Homo sapiens: one gene and its partners. The protein of the gene in region 5 purifies or fractionates together with the protein of the main gene of each other region. This does not show direct contact. Each region holds a gene or a part of one and is shown on either strand. Other genes may lie near its edges. The genes, in order: SDF4, MGARP, XPNPEP3, NAE1, NUCB2 and CALU.

What was found.
Region 1: the proteins of NUCB2 (region 5) and SDF4 fractionate together in Homo sapiens (co-fractionation; one large-scale study listed by BioGRID). This does not show direct contact.
Region 2: the proteins of NUCB2 (region 5) and MGARP fractionate together in Homo sapiens (co-fractionation; one large-scale study listed by BioGRID). This does not show direct contact.
Region 3: the proteins of NUCB2 (region 5) and XPNPEP3 purify together in Homo sapiens (co-immunoprecipitation; one large-scale study listed by IntAct). This does not show direct contact.
Region 4: the proteins of NUCB2 (region 5) and NAE1 fractionate together in Homo sapiens (co-fractionation; one large-scale study listed by BioGRID). This does not show direct contact.
Region 6: the proteins of NUCB2 (region 5) and CALU fractionate together in Homo sapiens (co-fractionation; one large-scale study listed by BioGRID). This does not show direct contact.

Annotation. Positions count from the first base shown.
Region 1 is NC_000001.11:1,219,217-1,222,001, forward strand, and holds part of SDF4 (45 kDa calcium-binding protein isoform 2 precursor), read right to left. Parts: intron 1,515-2,785; coding exon of another isoform or gene 1,483-1,514; exon of another isoform or gene 1-1,482. UniProt on the Homo sapiens protein: May regulate calcium-dependent activities in the endoplasmic reticulum lumen or post-ER compartment. Isoform 5 may be involved in the exocytosis of zymogens by pancreatic acini.
Region 2 is NC_000004.12:139,265,665-139,267,945, forward strand, and holds the end of MGARP (protein MGARP), read right to left. Parts: intron 1,378-2,281; coding exon 935-1,377; 3' UTR 501-934; downstream 1-500. UniProt on the Homo sapiens protein: Plays a role in the trafficking of mitochondria along microtubules. Regulates the kinesin-mediated axonal transport of mitochondria to nerve terminals along microtubules during hypoxia.
Region 3 is NC_000022.11:40,881,148-40,884,647, reverse strand, and holds part of XPNPEP3 (xaa-Pro aminopeptidase 3), read right to left. Parts: intron 2,879-3,500; coding exon 2,471-2,878; intron 1-2,470. UniProt on the Homo sapiens protein: Catalyzes the removal of a penultimate prolyl residue from the N-termini of peptides, such as Leu-Pro-Ala. Also shows low activity towards peptides with Ala or Ser at the P1 position.
Region 4 is NC_000016.10:66,817,477-66,820,976, forward strand, and holds part of NAE1 (NEDD8-activating enzyme E1 regulatory subunit), read right to left. Parts: intron 1,162-3,500; coding exon 1,052-1,161; intron 12-1,051; coding exon 1-11. UniProt on the Homo sapiens protein: Regulatory subunit of the dimeric UBA3-NAE1 E1 enzyme. E1 activates NEDD8 by first adenylating its C-terminal glycine residue with ATP, thereafter linking this residue to the side chain of the catalytic cysteine, yielding a NEDD8-UBA3 thioester and free AMP.
Region 5 is NC_000011.10:17,328,739-17,332,711, reverse strand, and holds the end of NUCB2 (nucleobindin-2 isoform 1 preproprotein), read right to left. Parts: intron 2,586-3,973; coding exon 2,415-2,585; intron 1,811-2,414; coding exon 1,729-1,810; intron 1,301-1,728; coding exon 1,293-1,300; 3' UTR 501-1,292; downstream 1-500. UniProt on the Homo sapiens protein: Calcium-binding protein which may have a role in calcium homeostasis. Acts as a non-receptor guanine nucleotide exchange factor which binds to and activates guanine nucleotide-binding protein (G-protein) alpha subunit GNAI3.
Region 6 is NC_000007.14:128,763,359-128,766,858, reverse strand, and holds part of CALU (calumenin isoform a precursor), read right to left. Parts: intron 1-3,500. UniProt on the Homo sapiens protein: Involved in regulation of vitamin K-dependent carboxylation of multiple N-terminal glutamate residues. Seems to inhibit gamma-carboxylase GGCX. Binds 7 calcium ions with a low affinity.

The DNA of each region.
Region 1 (2,785 bases), on a different chromosome or scaffold from region 5:
CAGACCCCCAATACATGGATGGCCCTGACTCCCCACAGACACAGCCCAGACCCCCAGGACATGGCCTGGACCCCCCACACAGCCCAGACCTCTCAAGACATGATCCAGAACCTCCCCATGGCCCAGACCACCCCAGGACACAGCTCAGAGCCCCTCATGCCTGGGACCCCTCAGGATGGGCCTGGGCCCCACCCCCCACACCCGCGCCTGCCCCTCTGGAGGAGCGGAATCACCCTGAAGGCTGACGTGCGCACGGCGCCGCGGGGCGAAGGACTCACTGCCCTTTTCCGTTTCCTTCACGTGTGACGTCACAGGGAGGAAAACACAGTTTCTAGAAATGACTGAGACTGGGGCTGAGCAGAGCTTCCCAGGAACCCTCCCAGCCGGGACACGGCACTGCCTCTGGGTGTGTGGCCCCCGCTCTCCTGCCGTGCCCACCCGGCCCCAACGGGCCCTCACCCCGAGGTCCCCACACATCCCAAGGACCCAAGCCACCCTGGGTCTCCAGGACAGAAACACCACCTCCTGCCCCATCTTGGGGCTCACTGCAGTCAGTGGCCAAGTCCAGTGTTGAGGCCCACACTCAGCCCCCTGCACGTGAGGCCCGACTCTGCCCTGGCCGAAGCCCCTGCCACAAGCCCGGCAGCCTCTGCGTCGCGCTCACTGCGGGATGAGGCCCAGCTGCCGTCCCATCTTATCCCTTTCTGAACAACCTCCATCTACACGACCGGTTCACTTAAAGGAAGACAGGAGTGACGGGGCTGTGGTTCCTGGGGCACCCCTCCCTGTCTGCTCCACCGCAGCTCCTGGGATGGATGGACGGGGCCAAACTGAGACCCATCCAGGAGAGGCACAGACGCCCCAGACAGGCCGGCCGAGAGACGCTTTCTCCAGCACAGGATTCTCACAGCCGCCGCCGAGCCCCAGCACCAACCTCAGGCTGGTGAAGAAGCCTTGAGTCCCAGTCCCTCCCCACGAGCCGGGCCTCTGCTGTTAGGGAAGGATCTGGAGAGACCCTCCTGGATCAGGGAGAGTCAACGACTGCTGTCCCTGTGAGAAGAGGACGCAGACCCAGAGAGAGGCAGCGATGGAGGCGGGGGAAGGGAGTGATGCCCGCCTGCCACGCCTTCACCGCGGTCCCCAGAATCAGGTCTGAGGCGCGAGGACAGCAGCCCCCGGACTCACGCGGTGACCCTCGCAGGAGCCATGCAGGGAGGGGTGGGAGGTCGCAGGAGTGACGCCTGCCAGCGCTTCCCAGGCCCCTCCTCCAGGACCCGGCAGCTGCTCTTCCTGAGCCAGAAACCAAATACCCAAAGAGGTCGGGGGGTCCTAGGCACCCTGAGGTCGGGGAGGCCAAGACGGATCGGACACGGGTGGGCAGGGAACAGCACCTCAGCATGCATGGGGACCCCCAAAACGCAGAGTGAATTCTAAACACACCTCTGCTGAGTCCCAAAGGTAGACGGAGGCTTCACAGAAATGTCACAGAGCTCTAGGTCCAGGTGGGCCATGTCCTGGGCAGAAAAGACCCAAATAAAGTGGCACCAAGGAAAGACAGACACAATCAGAGTTGGGGGGCGGGCACGGGCAAGGCCTCCTGCCCCAAGCACATCGCCAACAGGCCGGACCAACGGGATGAAGCTTAAAGACGCAGTCAGGACAGCAGGGAACGCGGGACCGGGGTGGAGGCACGAACCGTGTGTGGGGAGGAAAATGTAAACCACTCTTTTGGAAAGGAAGTAATAACGTCCAATTTGGCCGGGCACTGGGGCTTGTGCCTGTAATCCCGGCATGCTGGGAGGCTGCGGCAGGCAGATCCCTTTAGCCCAGGACTTTGAGACCAGCCTGGGCAACACAGGGAGATCCTCTTACTTTTAGTTTTTTTAATGTCCAATTTGCAGGATTTAGAACGGACAGGACCAAACTCCAGATAAGAGTACGTGAACTGGGAAAAGAGCAGGCAGAGCCAACAGGCTCAAAAGTCTCCGCGTCATTCTAGAAGGTCAAGGCCAGGCACAGGGGCTCATGCCTGCAACCCCAGGATGGGGAGAGGCCAAGGCAGGCGGGTCACTCGCGCCTGCAACCCCAGGACGGGGGGAGGCCGAGCGGGTCACTTGAACCCTCTGAAATCCAAGAGTTTGAGACCTACCTAGGCAACATGGGGAGACCTTGTGTCTACAAAATATATGTTTTTGAATCAGCTGGGCATGGTGGCACACACTGGTGGTCCCAGTCACTCAGGAGGCCGCCCCCATGGGGGCTGGTCACATGATATGGGCCGTTCCTGGCAGGAACGTATCTTACACCTTTATTTTTCTGTCCTCCAAGGAGGATAGATTGAGCCCAGGATGTGGAGGCTACAGGTGAGCTGAGATCGCACCACTGCACTCCAGCCTGGGCAACAGTGAGGCCCTCACTCTTAAACAATTAAAAATTAAAAATTAAAAAAAGAAAGAGGCTAAGACTAGGCGCAGTGGCTCACGCCTATAATCCCAGCACTTTGGGAGACTGCAGTAGGCGGATGACTTAAGTCCAAGAGTTTGAGACCAACCCGGCCAACACGGCAGAATCTATCCGTACAAAAAATACAAAAATTAGCCAGGCGCGGTGATGGTGCCTGTGGTCCCAGCTTCTGAGGTAGGAGGATCGCCTGAGCCCTGGAAGGTACAGCTGCAGGGAGCCGAGACTGCACCACTGCACTGCAGGCTGGGTAGCAGAGTGAGACCGTCTCATGAAAAAAGAAAGAAGAGGTGGTTTGCCTTGAGACTCTGGTGAGGAAATGTGT
Region 2 (2,281 bases), on a different chromosome or scaffold from region 5:
AGGCCTCTTTTGGCCATCCTATCTAAAATTACAACTTCCACCTCAGACTAACACTTACAATCCTTTTATTTTCGTTACTTTTATCCTTAGCACTTATCAGTACCTAACACACTATATCATTTTCTCATTTGTCTTCTTACCTGGTTCCACTCTAGAATATAAACCGGGAGCACTTAAAACAATACCTATTATGTTGTAAGTGCTCAGCTAATATTTGTTGAACACGTGAATGAATGAAAGATTCCTGGCACAAAGTGCTAATCTTCAATAAATATTGTTTGAACTGAACTGAAACAGAAAATATCTACATAGTCCCCTGTGTAAGTACTATAGATGGGAGAGGGCATACATATTGTTACATGCAGGGTTCTCCATAGATTATATGCTCTTTCTTCAATAATATTACGAAAGCCTACATTTCTCATGTGATGTTATGTACCTGTATGTTAATATGTATTATTTGTACATGCAAATATTAGTGAAAAAAGTAGAAGCACCAAAGCTTTTCTAATTTTATTTGACTCAAACTATATTTTAGACCTACATATCATACAATAAAGTAAGCTGAAAGCATAGTGAAATTAAAGTAAATACAGGTTGTATGGATAGCTCAATTTCTTTAATATAAAATGTAAATTCAGAGATGACTGGGATAAAAGAAAAGTGTCTAGAAAAAAAAACCAAAGATGAAACTATTTAAGCTCTTTACTGCAATGTCATATTCTGATCTCAGACAGTAGAAGAGTAGTAAGAAATGTACAATCTCAAGTCTCTCAGTCCTAAAATCTATCAGTGGATGCCAAAAATCTTCAAGACCCATTAACGTTTTCTAGAAAATAAGTCTTTTTTTTTTTAAACTAAGTGTACTAAAAACACAAAAGCACTTATCAGACACCCTATGGCATTTGTTGCTGAAATGTCTACCGGCTGGAGATTAGCCTTGAGCCGAAGCAGCCTCAGAGCCAACACTGGCTTCCTCCTGTAAATCATCTCCAGCAGAGGACTCTGACTCAGCTGGAGAATTTTCTTCTTCTAGTTCAGCATATTCATCAGAGGTTTCGTTCTTTGTTGTATCTTTATCATTATCGATGGTGACAGCTTCATCCAGGGCAGCATTTGTAACCTCTGGGGTTGTTTCAGGGTTTACTTCCGTGGTTTCCCTCGCCGCTGCATCTGTGACCTCTGGCCCGGTTTCAGCACTGACTGCTGTGGTCTCCGGAGCAGCCTCCACGTGACCTGGACAGGCAGATGCCTCTTTTATGACCACAACTGTAGCACTGGGACTTTCTTCAGCATCTACCACCTCAGCTTCCACTATAAGTTCTTCTGGGGCTTCTGAACTTGCTTTCTCAGTTTCCGCAACATTCTCCTTTTCACCTTTAAGAATTAGTCATTAAGCAAGGTATTAATTTAAAGATCGTGGGAAGGCAATGAAACACTGCGGTCGTTTAAACACCTAAGACAGAACTACATGCACTGATGTGTAACAGTCTTCAAGGTAGACTCTCAAGTGAAACAGCAAAAAAAGAACAATGTATACAGTCTGCTACTATTGTTAGGGCAAAATGAGGTTGGAGCAGGAGGGGGGTAAGTTGTATGCCTAGATAATTGTATTTGCAAAAACTCTCCAGGAGGATTCCAAGAAACTGGTTCTATTGGTTGCCTCTTGGAGGGAAAATGGGGGATCTGCTTTTCTGTAAACTCTTTGAACTTAAAAAAAAACACACTTGAATATATTACTTAGGCAAATATGAAGAATACAAAAATAAGTAGCTATCCTATTCACCTTTCATATGAGACAGCATGGAAGAGTAGCCAAGTTCCTAGCTGGTGACTCAGAAATCACTAATCCTCTCTCAATCTCATTTTTGTCATCTGTAAAATAGGGTATTGATAATATCTACTGCACAGGGTTATTGTAAAGATTAATTAAAATACTGTATATGAAAAGGGGATTAAAATAAAAAGTTCTATGCAAATGCTTATTAGTATTATAAACAACCGCATGATTATATTCAATAATATGTATTGATGATATTCTGTTTCTTATTATTGTCATGACAGGTTAAAACTGATTCATAAGCCCCTAATATCTCTATCCCTAAATAGTGATCATAGTAATTGATAATAATAGCTTGGAAAAAAGTATGGTTTAAAGCAAGAAGTGGCTAGGCATAGTGGCATATGCCTGTAATCCCAGCACTTTGGGAGGCTGAGGCAGGAGGGATCACATGAGGCCAGGAGATCAAGACCAGCCTGGGCAACATAGTGAGACCCTGTC
Region 3 (3,500 bases), on a different chromosome or scaffold from region 5:
ATAAATATGATTTTAGCCAGGCACGGTGGCTCACGCCTGTAATCCCAGCACCCTGGGAGGCTGAGGGGGGTGGATCACCTGAGGTCAGGAGTTCGAGACCAGCCTGACTAACATGGTAAAACCTTGTCTCTACTAAAAAAAAACAGAAAAATTCCCCGGGCATGGTGGCGCGTGCCTGTAACCCCAGCTACACGGGAGGCTGAGGCAGGAGAATTACTTGAACCTGGGAGGCAGGAGTTGCAGTGAGCCGAGATGGTGCCATTGCACTCCAGCCTGGGCAAGAGCGAAATTCTGTTTCAAAAAAAAAAAAAAAGGAATGGTGACCGAGAAGTACTTTTGAGAAATTTATTTTACATGAGATTGTAACTATACTGAATTAATAAAACTTAGACAGTAGAACATGACAAGTAGCAACTAATGTAAGAAAAAAGCTAGAAAGAAAATGATTCTATGCCCCACATTTATGTGGATTTTGAAGACATAAGAAAGTTCAATGAATTGAACAGGCTAATTATCTATAAAATGGAAAACATTTCTATAAATAAAAAGAATTTAATCAAATGTATTAGAACTTACATATTCAAATGAGTATTTTCTTCCAAAAGAGGCTTTACAGGAAACAGTCTAATATATTTTATGATTGTGAAAAACATTTTTGGAATTCTCTTTTAGAAGCTAACTTCAGATATGATTTGTAACCCATGTAAGAAAAATCAAACAAAAACTTTATAATTATACATTATCTTGACCTAAAATCAGTATTTTTAAACTTGAGCATCTATCTTATTTTCCAAATAAGATACTTCAAAAAATAAAATACTTCCCAGAGCTAAAGTTTTTTAAGAATTACTAAAGATAGTTTATAATGTGGTGTAGGTTCTGAAAAAATTCCCAGAAGAAAAATCTCAAAACATTCGGATTGATTAAAATTTCACCAGAATAACTGTAGAGAAAGTAATTTCTTTGAGGGACAAGAACTCAACTATGGCCAGGCACGGTGCCTCACACCTGTAATCCCAGCACTTCAGGAGGCTGAGGTGGGAGGCTCACTTGAGGCCAGGAGTTCAAAACCAGCCTAGGCAACAAAGTGAAACTCCATCTCTACAAAAAAATAAAAAAAAATTAGCCAGACATAGTGGTGTGCCCAGGTAGTCCCAGTATTCTGGAGGCTGAGGCAGGAAGACTGCTTGAGCTTTGGGGTTCGAGGTTGCAGTGAGCCATGAGTGTGCCACTATACCTACATCCCAACCTGGGTGACAGAGTGAGACCCTGCCTAAAAAAAAACAAAAAAAGAACTCAACTGTATATGAACCACAAAAGATCTGTTAAAATGCAGATTCTGATTCAGTAGATAGGGGATGGAGGCCTGAGATTTTAATTTCTATTACATATTATGCATTTTTAATTTTAATATGCATTACCAGGTGATTCTGATGCTGTGATGCATGGATCGTTCTTGGAGAACAGTACCTCCTTTTGAAGAGCTGGCAAGAGCACTAAGATAAGAAGTAGTTGTCAAATATCAAGAAGCTGGTCAGTAATCTTGAAGAGTGGTCCATGCCCATCCTGTCCTTAATTTATTTATTTTTTGGAGATGGGGTCTCACTACGTTGTGCAGTCTGGACCTGAACTCCTGGCCTCAAGCGATCCTTCTACCTCAGCCTCTCCAGTAGCTGGACTACAGACGTACACCACTGTGTCTGGCTTATCCTTTGCTTTAAAAGAAAATTCTCTGTGAGATTTCAAACTAGGATAGGTAACAGTCTCCATTAATGAATAATCCAGTGAACATGGAGTTTTTTTTTAATTGAAATGTTCTAAAATTCATTGTGGTGATGGTTGCACAATTCTATGACTATACCAAAAACTCTTAAATTATATACTTTCATTTTATTATTTTTTTTGAGATGGAGTCTTGCTCTGTCGCCTAGGCTGGAGTGCAGTGGCGGGATCTTAGCTCACTGGCTCACTGTAACCTCCTGCAAATGAATAAATGAATCTTTTTTTTTTTTTAAGACAGTCTTGCTTTGTTGCCTAGGCTGGAATGCAGTGGCATGATCTCGGATCACTGCAACCTCCACCTCCCGGGCTCAAGTGATTCTCCTGCCTGAGCCACCTGAGTAGCTGGGATTACAGGCGCCTGCGACCATGCCTGGCTAATTTTTCTATTTTTAGTAGAGACGGGGTTTCGCCATGTTGGCCAGGTTGGTCTTGAACTCCTGGCCACAAGGAACCTGTCTGCCTCGGCCTCCCAAAGTGCTGGGATTACGGGCGTGAGCCAATGCACCAGGCATAAATGAAATCTTTAAAGAAGCTCAATCTTCTGAAAAAGACTTTACATTTCTTTCATGGTGCTCATGGTCTTTTCATGGTGGTGCTACGATAACAAAATTAAGGACTTGTCTAAACAGGCAAGAAAGGTTTTAATCCCAATCTGGTTTGTAATGTGACTTCTGCTCCCATTTGTTACCTTTCATTTTTGGTAGAAGATGTTGAAATTCTTCTAGCGTATAGGCTTCGTCTACTCCAGTTAGAGCTATTGCTCCATCAGTGCCAGATCGCGGACCATCCCAAAGTTCTCGACTGGGATCTCGCCGAGGCACAAAAAGTATGGCTTTGTGTGATGGTAATTGTTTGCCAGGGAGGCTCTGAAGGACAAGAATGCTATCAGGCTCTTGGAATCCACATAGGTACAGGAAATTGTTGTCTTGGTGGAAAGTATAGGGAATATCGTTGCTCATGTAGTATGTAGGGTTGGAGAGCACAACCACTGTCTGGTCTGTCCCACTCTGCCCTTGAGCTTCCTTCTGGATCAGAGACATTAGTTTGTGTCTGCGAAGTGCATATTCCACCTGAGATAGTCCTGGAGTTACCTCCCCTAGAAATGACAAATAAAAGGGATGCTTTACATTTCTGCAGTGCCAAAGTACTTAAGGTAGTTTAATATTAGATGGAAATACTCAAGTCCAATTGTTCAATTTATGCCAAATCTCCTCACAGCACATGGAGAATTAAGGAGATAACCAGGTTTCAAACTTGTATTCCACTGCAAAAATTTGGAAGAAATGATAGTTGAATGTGGCCCCGCCTGAAATCTGGAATCATGGACCCCTTAGATCTCTTCCAGGTCTTTGGCTCATTCTTTTACTCACTCAGTTATATTCATTGAATATAATTTTTTTTTTTTTTTTGAGACAGAGTTTCGCTCTTGTTGCCCAGGCTGGAGTGCAGTGGCATGATCTCGGCTCACTGAAACCTCTGCCTCTCAGGCTCAAGCAATTCTCCCACTTCAGCCTCCCGACTAGCTGAGGTGGTTCACGCCTGAAATCCCAGCACTTTGGGAGGCCAAGGCAGGCAGATCACCTGAGGTCAGGAGTTCAAGACCAGCCCGGCCAACATGGTAAAACCTCATCTCTACTAAAAAAAACACAAAAATTAGCCATGTGTGGTGGTGCATGCCTGTAATCCCAGCTACTCGGGAGCCTGAGGCAGGAGAATCG
Region 4 (3,500 bases), on a different chromosome or scaffold from region 5:
TGACTGTGGTCCTAAAAATGAGAGACAAATAAAAGAAAATATCAGTATTATGAATTCTTCACTGTACCATCTCGTTTTCAACAAATTCAACAATATTTATGATCTCCTAATATATGCAGAGTAGTGAATAGACGAAAATGAACTGAGTTAATAAAAACTGCTTTACAAATTTTTCTAGAGGCAGATACCTAGTATGTCACATATATACTATGATTGTCCCCATTATACCAGCAAAACAGTCTCAGAGACTGCCACCCAAAAACACAGCTCAAATCTCAATTTCAGACACCAATCCTAAGTAAGAAAGGAGGATCTTTTCTGTTTTCTGATGAACCAAATAAGCAACTGCATGTTAATTAATATGGAAGTGGGAAAAAATACATATACGCCTTATAGTGTTATGTCATTATTTCTATTTGTTTAGAAAAAGTCCATAAAGAGAACTTCTTGGAATTTTTTTATTTCTGTTTTTTGTTTTAAAATTTTTTACTTTCAATTTTTGTGGGTACTTAGGTGTATATATTTATGGGGTACATGCTTTGATACAGGCATGCAATGTGAAATAAGCACATCATGGAGAATGGGGTATCTGTATAGCATTTATCCCCTCAAGCGTTTATCCTTTATGTTACAAATAATCCAATTAAACTCTTTTAATTATTTTAAAATGTATAACTGAGTTGTTATTACTAACTATAGTCACCTTGTTGTGCTTTCAAGGAGTAAATCTTATTTATTCTTTCTAATTTTTTTTTGGTACCCATTAACCATCCCCATCTCCCCACCTGGAATAGGTTAATGTCCAATTTCTTGACCTGGGTAGTGATTACACAGATGTTCAGTATATGTACTTTTCTTCAGTAAAAAAGTTTTTTAATTTTGGAGAAAAATTAATATGTTGAAAACAAGGTAAAATACTGTTATTGGGTAATCGGGATGACAGGAATATGGAAGTTTATAGGATTTTCTCACTTTAGTGTAATTCAAAAACCTTAGGTTAAAAAAATGTTTTAAGTCTATCTGTAAATGTAAGGTCACACACACTACCAACCTTTTTTTCCATATGATCCAAATCATAGGACTGAAAATGTTCTCTCAGTTCAGGAAATGGCTTATCTAGTCGTAGATCCTCTAATGCATTATCTGGATGAGATTCTATTACTGTGAAACAAAGAATTCAAAAGGATAAATTTAACACTTAAAAAAAAAAAAGAGAGAGATGGGGTCTTGCTGTATTACCCAGGCTGAAGTACAGTGGCACAATCACAGCTCACTGCTGAAACTCCTGGGCTGAAGGGATCCTCCCACCTCAGCCTCCTGAGAAGGTGGGACTACAGTCTCGTGTCACTGTGCCCAGCTAATTTTTTTGTAGGGATAGGGTCTCACTATGTCACCCAGGCTAGTCTCAAACTCCTGGATTCAAGGGCTCCTCCTGCCTCGGCCTCCCAAAGTCCTTGCATTACAGGTGTGAGCCACCGTGCCCAGCTCAAAAGATAAACTTAATTCTTTGGCAATACTGATGACAATACATTGAATTATAGAAACTTAGGAAATCTTTAATTTTTAAATGGACACAGGGCCCACAGGTTTTTTCACTGTTTTATTAAGGTACGATTTACATATAGTAAAATGCAGAAATCTTAAGTCAACTATAAAGTTTTAGTAAAAGTAAAACCAAGATTCCTTTAGAACACAATTTGTTCTAACTGGAAAAGCTCAACATTGACAAACCCTAGGTACAGATAGCAACTAACAACCTATCCTTCCTCCTCTTGTGGTCTTCAATAGACAGCATCACCATCTACCTAGACTTCTTCTCCAGAAACCTGATGGGCATCCTTCACTTCTTGCTTCCTTGGCCCCAACATCAGTAACTCCCCACTTCCTAATCTCACTCTGTACACTGCTCTCCACATGAGAGAGGACAGGAGAGTGTATAATTTCAGTGAGTGCTTAGAGGTAGGCCCAGTTCTGTCACTTGCTAACTATGTGACCTTAGGCAAATAATTTAATCTCTCATTGCCTCAGCATCATCTATAAAAAGCAGATATTAAAGTATCTACAGATTGTATATCTCTCTTATCCAAAATGCTTGGGACCATAAGTGTTTTGGATTTTGTTGAGTTTTTGGTATATTTGCAAATACATATTAGATGAGCTCTCTAACCCAAAAATCTGAAGTAAGAAATGTTCCAATGAGTGTTTCCTTTGAATATTATGTCAGTTCTCAAAAAGTTTTGCATTTTGGAGCATTTCTGATTTTGGATTTTTGGATTAAGGATACTCAATCTGTACCTTATAAAGGTTTTGGAAAGAGTAAATGAAATAATTCTTATAAAGGCAGGCACACAACTAGTAATGCTGAACCTTCATTATTATCTACCCTCTCTTCTTCTCTTCCCTAAATTAGGAAAAAGAACACACTCTCTCTTACTTAGGCCACTGGAAATTTCTAACAGCAATCACTGCCTCCAATCTTTGCCCCTTTAAATCCATTTACTTTCCACTCAACTTCAAAGTGACCCATTTAAAATAAAATGTTTACATGGTCACTCTCCCACTTTCAACTCTTTTGTTCCCTCCCATCAGTTGACACCACTTTCAACTCTTAAATGGCTCACCACCAGCAGCCAGAGCTTATCCTGACAAGCACTCCCTAACTGCCCACACAGATATTACTCCTCAGTGATGCTACCAATGCCAATGGCTATCACCACATTAGCAGAGTGCTTGGCTCATAGTAAAAATGTTTTCTTGAGTCAATAAAGAGCACTGTTTTGAATACTGGATGAAAATTTTATGATCATCTAAGATTAAAATTTTATAAGTAAAGGGCTTATATAAACCCTCAGCTGATGGAGGTCTGCCTATAAACGACTTTGGTCTCTTACAACAGTTTCCTTGGGAACAGTAGTTATGTAAATGTCTTTGTTGTGTGAAATTGCACCTGAATTGAGAGAACCTAAAGCCTGCATGAGAATGAAATAAAAGATTGGACGGACCTGGTGCAGTGGCTCACACCTGTAATCCCAGCACCTTGGGAGGCCAAGGCGGGTGGATCACCTGAGGTCAGGAGTTCGAGACCAGCCTGGCCAACATGGTGAAATCCTGTCTCTACTAAAAATGCAAAAAATTAGCTGGGCGGCCGGGTGCGGTGGCTCACGCCTGTAATCCCAGCACTTTGGGAGGCCAAGGCGGGCAGATCACGAGGTCAGGAGATTGAGACCATCCTGGCTAACATGGTGAAACCCCATCTCTACTAAAAATACAAAAAATTAGCCGGGCACGGTGGCGGGCGCCTGTAGTCCCAGCTACTCGGGAGGCTGAGGCAGGAGAATGGCGTGAACCCGGGAGGTGGAGGTAGCAGTGAGCCAAGATCGCGCCACTGCAGTCCAGCCTGAGCAAAAGAGAGAGACTCCGTCTCAAAAAAAAAAAAAAAAAAATTAGCTGGGCATGGTGGCGGGTGCCTGTAATCCCAGATACTTGGGAGGCTGAGGCAG
Region 5 (3,973 bases):
GTTTTCCTGCACCTTTGCATTATGCATCTGGTGCTCTCAGGGCAGAAAACTTGTCTTTCAGTTTGTAGGTGGCCAGAACACAAGGAGCCACACCCTAACATGATGGAGGGGACTGTCTCCAGATAGCATGGTCTTTCATCTAGTATGCAATAATGGGCTGGATTTCTGGTGGTTTCTCTTCAGGGAGAGAGGGGTGAGTGTTTTCTCTCTCGGAAGAAGAAGGTACACAGAATTTAGGTAGCCAACAAGGCTGGCTGAGTTTAAAATCCAAAGTTGCCTACCAAACATTCCCTCTTCCCTTCTTCCTTAGTAAAAGAATCCAACTTTTAGCTGGTCACATTGCCACATTGACTTCTCAGCCTCCCTAGCAGCTAGGTGTGGCCATCAGTGTGACCCAGTTCTGGTCGAAACATAAGTTCAGGTGCTGCTGGTTCTGGAAAATGGCCTCAGGGAAGCTAACTCAAGCAGAGAAAGTCCAGTTTTCTTGCCTTCCCCACTGCCTCCAGGAGCAAACTTGAACAGTGAGAGTGAGGTAATCTGAGGATAAAAATCATGCACTGAGGATAGCAGAGCAGAAAGATAGGAACCTGGACACCACCTACTTCTAGACTTATGTAAGAAGAAAAACTCCTATTTAGTTTAAACCACTGTTATCTTTGTTTTTTCTGTTATATGTAACATAACCTAATCTTAAATGATAAAGTATAGAGCAAAATAAAAAAGAATGAAAAATGACCTGAAGTGGTAGCAAAAGTGATTCAGGTGAAGAATTTCTAGCAGTTGAGGTTGCCAAAACTAGAAAAACGTTACCAGGAAACACAGGGAAATACTGTGGCCTTTCCAGAATTGTTAATATCAAACAGACATTTATTGAAAGAAGGAATGATAAGCACCCATAAAAGAATACCTATGTTTACGAGTAAGTGAGAGCAATCTAATTTAAAAGCAAGAGGCAGAGTTTTCTCACTTAAATAGTTCCTAATAGTTTCACTAAATTATGGCATAAAGCCACTTAATTAAATCATTAAAGGAGAACAAAAAAATAAATAAAAGAGCCGTGTGAATGTGAGAGCAGAGAGCAGACAGTGAGTTTGTTTTCTTCCTGGTTCTGATAAACTTCAATCCTTTAATATCTGTGTCCCAAAAAAAGTGTTTTCATTTAAAAAGTATCTCCCTTTATTTCAAATATGCTTTTAAAATATTTATTGAGCAGAGAAAAAGGAAGGGAGCTAAAAAGATGAAATAGATGTTGAGTTAACAGCTTTCTTCCAAGTTCTGGTGGACTTCAGACTTTAAATGTCTGTTGGAAAAAAGAAAAAAGTTCTTATTTTAAAAGTATCTTCCTTTATTCTAAATGTTCCTTCATATACAAATATACTTGTTTTAAAAAATATGCTTAGCTAATCATAGATCACAATTTTAAAAAACATATTCTCTGGTAAGATTAATATAATTAGAAAGAATTACAAATAAAGTTGAAATAAATCATTTTACCATAAATATGGTTATCAAATTATACAAATGATACAGCACTTAAAATTTGCTGCTACATAAAACTTTTGGAGGCATTTTCATTTTTCTATAATCTAAATTGCTCTAATACCACAAAAAATACACAAAAAATAACATAACATCTTAATGATTTGAAATTATATTTGTAATAAATGTGGATTTCAATTGATAAAATAATTTATTTTCCTAAATAAATAATCAAACAAAATTACACACGTGGCTCAAACTTCAATTCTCCAGCTGGCCCTGATGGAGGAATTCCTTGTTGTAATTTTTTTTGTTCCATCTGCTGTATGACCTGGTGAATGGAAAATGAAAGTTAAAAGTATAACTTGATTTTCTATCATATGTGTGACCTTTGACAAAGCACAACAAAGTAAATGAAAATTGTTTTCTAAAACAAAGATATTCAAACTATAAGATTTAGATTTGACTAGGTGCAGTGGCTCACGCCTATAGTCCCAACAATTTCAGAGGCCCAGGTGGGAAGATCACTTAAGGCCAGGAGTTCGAGACCAGCCTCGGCAACACAATGAGACCTGGTCTCTACAAAAAATATTAACATTAGCCAGGAACACTGGCATGCACCTGTAGTCCTAGCTACTGGGGAGGCTGAGGTGGGAGGATCACTTGAGCCCAGGAGTTTGAGGCTGCAGTGAGCTATGATCACAGCACTATACTCCAGCCTGGGAGACAGGCTGTCTCAAAATAAAATAAAATGAAATAAAATAAAATTTAGATTAATATTCCACAAAACAGTTTTAAAGTATTAAAATTTAAAATACTATAGTATAGCTATAGCAGTGTACTATATAGTACAATGAAATATGTTACAAAAACACAGGCTTTTAACAAAGCACCTAAAATCTTTTTAATGCCATAATCTTTTGACAAAATGCCACCTGATGATATTCCAGCTTCTGAGCCTCCAGTTGATCATGCTGACGTTGTAGCTCTTCTTTTTGTTTCTGAAGCTCATCTGCCTTCTTCTTAAGTTCATTTTCTTGTAAAGCAATAATATTTTCATATTCTTTTAGTTCTTCCTCTGTGAAGAACTGTTGCTGATCTAATGTCTAAAAGAAAAAAAATGAGGAAAGAATAATCTCAAAACTACAACAATAAAGTCTGATTTAGCTTTAAAATTCTATGGTTAGCAAAGTATAAAAGAGTATCTATAGGATTACGCCTTTGGAGGTAAGAAGGAAGGGGAAATAAGTAATATATATTTATGTACTCATTTGAACAAAAGGAAAAACAGGAAGAAAAACTCAAGAGATTCTCTTCTGGGATTGACAACTAAAGGCAAAGAGTGAGAACTGGGTAGAAGAGGCAAAGAGAACGTGGGAAGAGAAATAAAATTTGTCATTCCCCCCAACCCTCACTGAAACATGAAATTTTAACAGCTGTCTGCACACAGAAAAGCACAAGAAGCAAACATCAGGTGAGCACTCACAGTACCTGGTTTCAACTTCATATCACCTGCAAAGACACTGAGAAGGGCAAAAGAGACAGTCTTGAATCACCTATGCCACCTCTCTCCCATTCCCTCGTGGCAGACCTGCAGCACAGAGAGTCTGTGCCCTCTGGGGAGGGAGCATAGCGACTGGGGGACTTTACATTGAACTCAGTGCTGCCCTGTCACAGCAGAGAATAAAGCTGTGCTGGGCTCCACCACTGCCCATGCATAGGAGCATTTGAAGCAGCCCTAGCCAGAGGAGAATCACCCATCCCAGCAATGGGCACTGAATTTCCTGGCAGGCCTCACCATGCGGGCTGAAGTGCTCTGGGGTCCTAGGTAAACTTGAAAGGCAGTCTAGGAAAGGAGGACTGTAATTCCTAGGCAACTCCTAGTGCTAGGCTGGGCTTAGAGCCAGTGAACTAGGGTAGCAGGTGACCAGGGGAGATACCAGCTGGTGAGGCTAAGGGAACGCTTGTGCTACCCCTCCCCCAACCTCAGGCAGTGCAGCTTGTGGCTATGAAAGTGACTCCTTTCTTGAGGAAAGGAGAGGAAAAAGTAAAGAGGGCTTTGTTTTGCATCTTGGATACCAGCTAAGCCATAGTAGGATAGGACACCAGGCAGAGTTGTGAGGACCTGATTCCAGGCCCTAGCTCCCAGGTGACATTTCTAGACATACCCTGCTGGCCCAAAAGGAAACTGCTGCCTTAAGGGAGCAGTCCTGGCAGGCTTCATCACTTGCTAAGTAAAGAGCCCCTGGGCCCTGAATAATCAGCGGCAAGACCCATGGAGTATGCTGTGGGTCTTGGACTGAGACATGCTGGCTTCGGGGTGACCCAGCACATTCCCAGCTGTAGTGGCTATGGCGAGAGACCCCTGTTTGAGGAAAGCAGAGGGAAAGTAAAGGCGATTTTTGTCTTGCACCCTAGGTACCAGCTCAGCCACAATGGGGTAGACCAACAAGCAGTCTTTTGGAGTCCCTGAGTCCAGGCCTTGGCTCTTGGA
Region 6 (3,500 bases), on a different chromosome or scaffold from region 5:
GTCCCACTTTATAAAAGAAAGGCATATTTTCAACCATTTTGAAACTAGAGTGTAAAAAGCTCCAAGATAATGAAAAAGAAACAATTAGAAATACTAGTGTCTGGATGGGCGTGGTGGCTCACACCTGTAATTCCAGCACTTTGGGAGGCCTAGGCAGGCAGATCACCTGAGGTCGGAGTTTGAGACCAGATCACCTGAGGTCAGGAATTTGAGACCAGCCTGGCCAAAATGGCAAAACCCCATCTCTACTAAAAATACAAAAATTAGCTGAGCATGGTGGTGCGTGCCTGTAATCCCAGCTACTCGAGAGGCTGAGGCAAAAGAATCACTTGAACCCAGGAGGCAGAGGTTGCAGTGAGCCGAGATCATATCACTGCACTCTAGCCTGGGCGACAGAGCAAGACTCCGTCTCAAAAAAAAAAAAAAAAAAAAAGAAAAAGAAATACTAGTGTCAGTCTTGAGAATGCAAATGCCTGAAAAAAAATGAATAAATTCGTTTGCATGTCAAAAGGTTTTAAATTCTTTGCTTTAAAAAAAAAAACCTTGAAAAATGGCCTAATTGAGTTTTAGCTAAGGGATCATTAAACATAATTTTTGGGCTGGGTGCAGTGGCTCATGCCTGTAATCCCAGCACTTTGGGAGGCTGAGGCGGGTGGATCACTTGAGGTCAGGAGTTTGAGACCAGCATGGCCAACATGGTGAAACCCCGTCTCTACTAAAAATAAAAAATAAAATTAGCCGGGCGTGCTGGCCCACACCTGTAATCTCCAGCTACTGGGGAGGCTGAGGCAGGAGAATCGCTTGAACCCCAGAGGCAGAGGTTGCAATGAGCCGAGACCGTGCCTGTGTACTACAGCCTGGGTGAGAGAGAGAGACTCCACCTTGAAACAAACAAAACCCATAATTTTTGATGATAGATTACATGATTTCTGGCATGTAACTCAAAAGGAGTTCCAAGAACTAAGCAATATTGCTATGACAAATCTTCCATCAACTTATTTACTAATGTAAACAAGGTCTGTTAGTACTTCCTCTAAAAAATAAAAATTAGGAATTGGTGCTGAATCCCATTTCACTCTAGGGATAAGTAATTGTCATCCATGGATATGAAACTATTTGAATAAAAATGTGTCAAAGAAATGCATTTAAAAATATATAAACATAAAACGTCTGTAATAAATGTTATTTTGTTCAATTGTGTATTAATAATTGTAATAGTAACTTAACACAGAAGACTCTAAAAACACTTAAGAGCCATATCACAGAACACCATTTTCCATATTTCAATTTACATACACAATGTTCTTGCAAATAAGAATGTCAAAGTGACTAAGGCTTCAAGATAAAATATGTCAGAATATAATTCTGTTGAGGAAGTAAACTGCAAATGAATCTAACAAATAGAAGGCTGACTTGTGAGTTTGAGATCAGCCTGGACAACATGGCAAAATCCCTACAAGAAATACAAAAATTAGCCAGGCATGGCAGCATGCACCTACAGTCCCAGCTACTCGGGAGGCTGAGGCAGGAGGATGGCTTGAGCCTAGCAGATCGAGGCTGCAATGAACCATGATCATGCCACTGCACTCCAGCCTAGGTGACAGAGTGAGACCCTGTCTCAAAAAGAAAAAGAAAAAAAAGAAACAGGAGGTCGGGTGGCTGATGTCTGTAATCCCAGCACTTTGGGAGGCCAAGGCAGGTAGAGCTCTTGAGCCCAGGATTTCCAGACCAGCCTGGGCAATGTAGGGAGACCCATGTCTATAAGAATAATAATAAAAAAAATCAGCTGGGTGTGGTGGTGCTCTTCTGTGGTCCCAGCTGAGGTGAGAGGATCACTTGATCTCCCCACCTTGGAGATCGAGGCTGCTGTGATTGTGCCACTGCACACCAACATGGGCAACAGAATGAGACTCTTGTCTTTTTAAAAAAGAAGAAGAAGAAGAAACAGGATGCGTGTAAAATGTCCAAGTTGGTTAACAGTTTATTCATTTATTTTTTTAAGACAATATCATGTGGTGACTGATAAGTAGTATAAATATCCCCAAATCCCTATAAATTTAAACAAAAAAAAGGGCAATTAAGTGATGGTCACATTGTTGCTAACCAAACGCCATAACTAAAAAAAAAAAAGTACCAAAGAAACATTTCCTTTTTAACTATTATGAAATGTAAAAAATTACGGATATTTTCTTATATACCCACAATGCCACTTTCATATTTTACAAAATCAATTCCTTGGTATCATCTAATACCCAGACTGAATTTAAATTTCTTGATTATCTTTTTAAAGTTGTCGTGTCCAAATTATTCATATGAAAGACGGCAGGTAAGAAGTTGCTATGGTATCTTGTATTTAAATTTTATAGATTTCTTTCCGAATTACTTTCAAAATGTCAATGCTTATCACCAACAGAGATTATTCTTTTTTCTTCTGAGACAGGGTCTTGCTCTGTTGCCCAGGCTGGAGTGCAGTGGTACAATAACGGTGCACTGCAACCTCAAACCCTCAGGCTCAAGTGATCCTCCTGAGTTGCTGGGACTACAGGCACACGCCACCATGCCTGGCTAATTTTTTCTTTTTTTTTGTATTTTTTGTAGAGACAGGGTTGCGCCATGTTGTCCAGGTTGTTCTCAAACTCCTGGGCTCAAGTGATTCACCTGCCTCAGCCTCCCAAAGTTCTGGGATTACAGGAATGAGCTACGGCATCCGGCCCAACAGAGACTATTCTTTACAACTGTTTAAATTTCTTAATTAAATATTTCAGATGCCAACTTTAAAACACATAAGGGAATGCTGTTGGTCAAATTCTTTCAGGAGTTATTTAAGTGAACAAGTCTGAAAATGCTTGAGTTATACGACATCTAAGTTAAGTGTACCTGCATTGCATGTAAGGTATGGGAAAACACCTAAAGAGAAATCTAAATAGTTCCTGCAAGTTCTAAGCAAAGGTAATTATTTAGTCAGTGCTGCCATTTTCCTGACCTTGAGGGTTAAGGGTAGAAGTACTCCTCTGTCTTAAACTCACAAGAGAAATTCCTCACAGCAGGACTTGCCAATTTTTTCCCATGCTACAGCACATTCAGAAAATGTAGTTTGTACGGTCCACTGGATCAGGTTCCTGCCCTAGCTGTCCTGAAAGCCAAGAAGACTTACTCACAGGATACAGATTGGAAAGTTCTGAATTAGGAAATAGACACATGCTTAAAAGATATGGTTTTAAAGGAAGCTAGAATACACAATACACTACAACGTAAGCGCATTTTAAAGCTAGGTGACCATGATAAACTATTTGAATTTCTATTTTTATTTATTTTACTTTATTTTTTTGAGACAGAGTCTTGCTCTGTCGCCCAGGCTGGAGTGCAGTGGCGCGATCTCGGCTCACTGCAACCTCCGCCTCCTGGGTTCAAGCGATTCTCCTGCCTCAGCCTCCTGAGTAGCTGGGATTACACAGGCACATGCCACCACACCTGGCTAATTTTTATATTTTTAGTAGAGA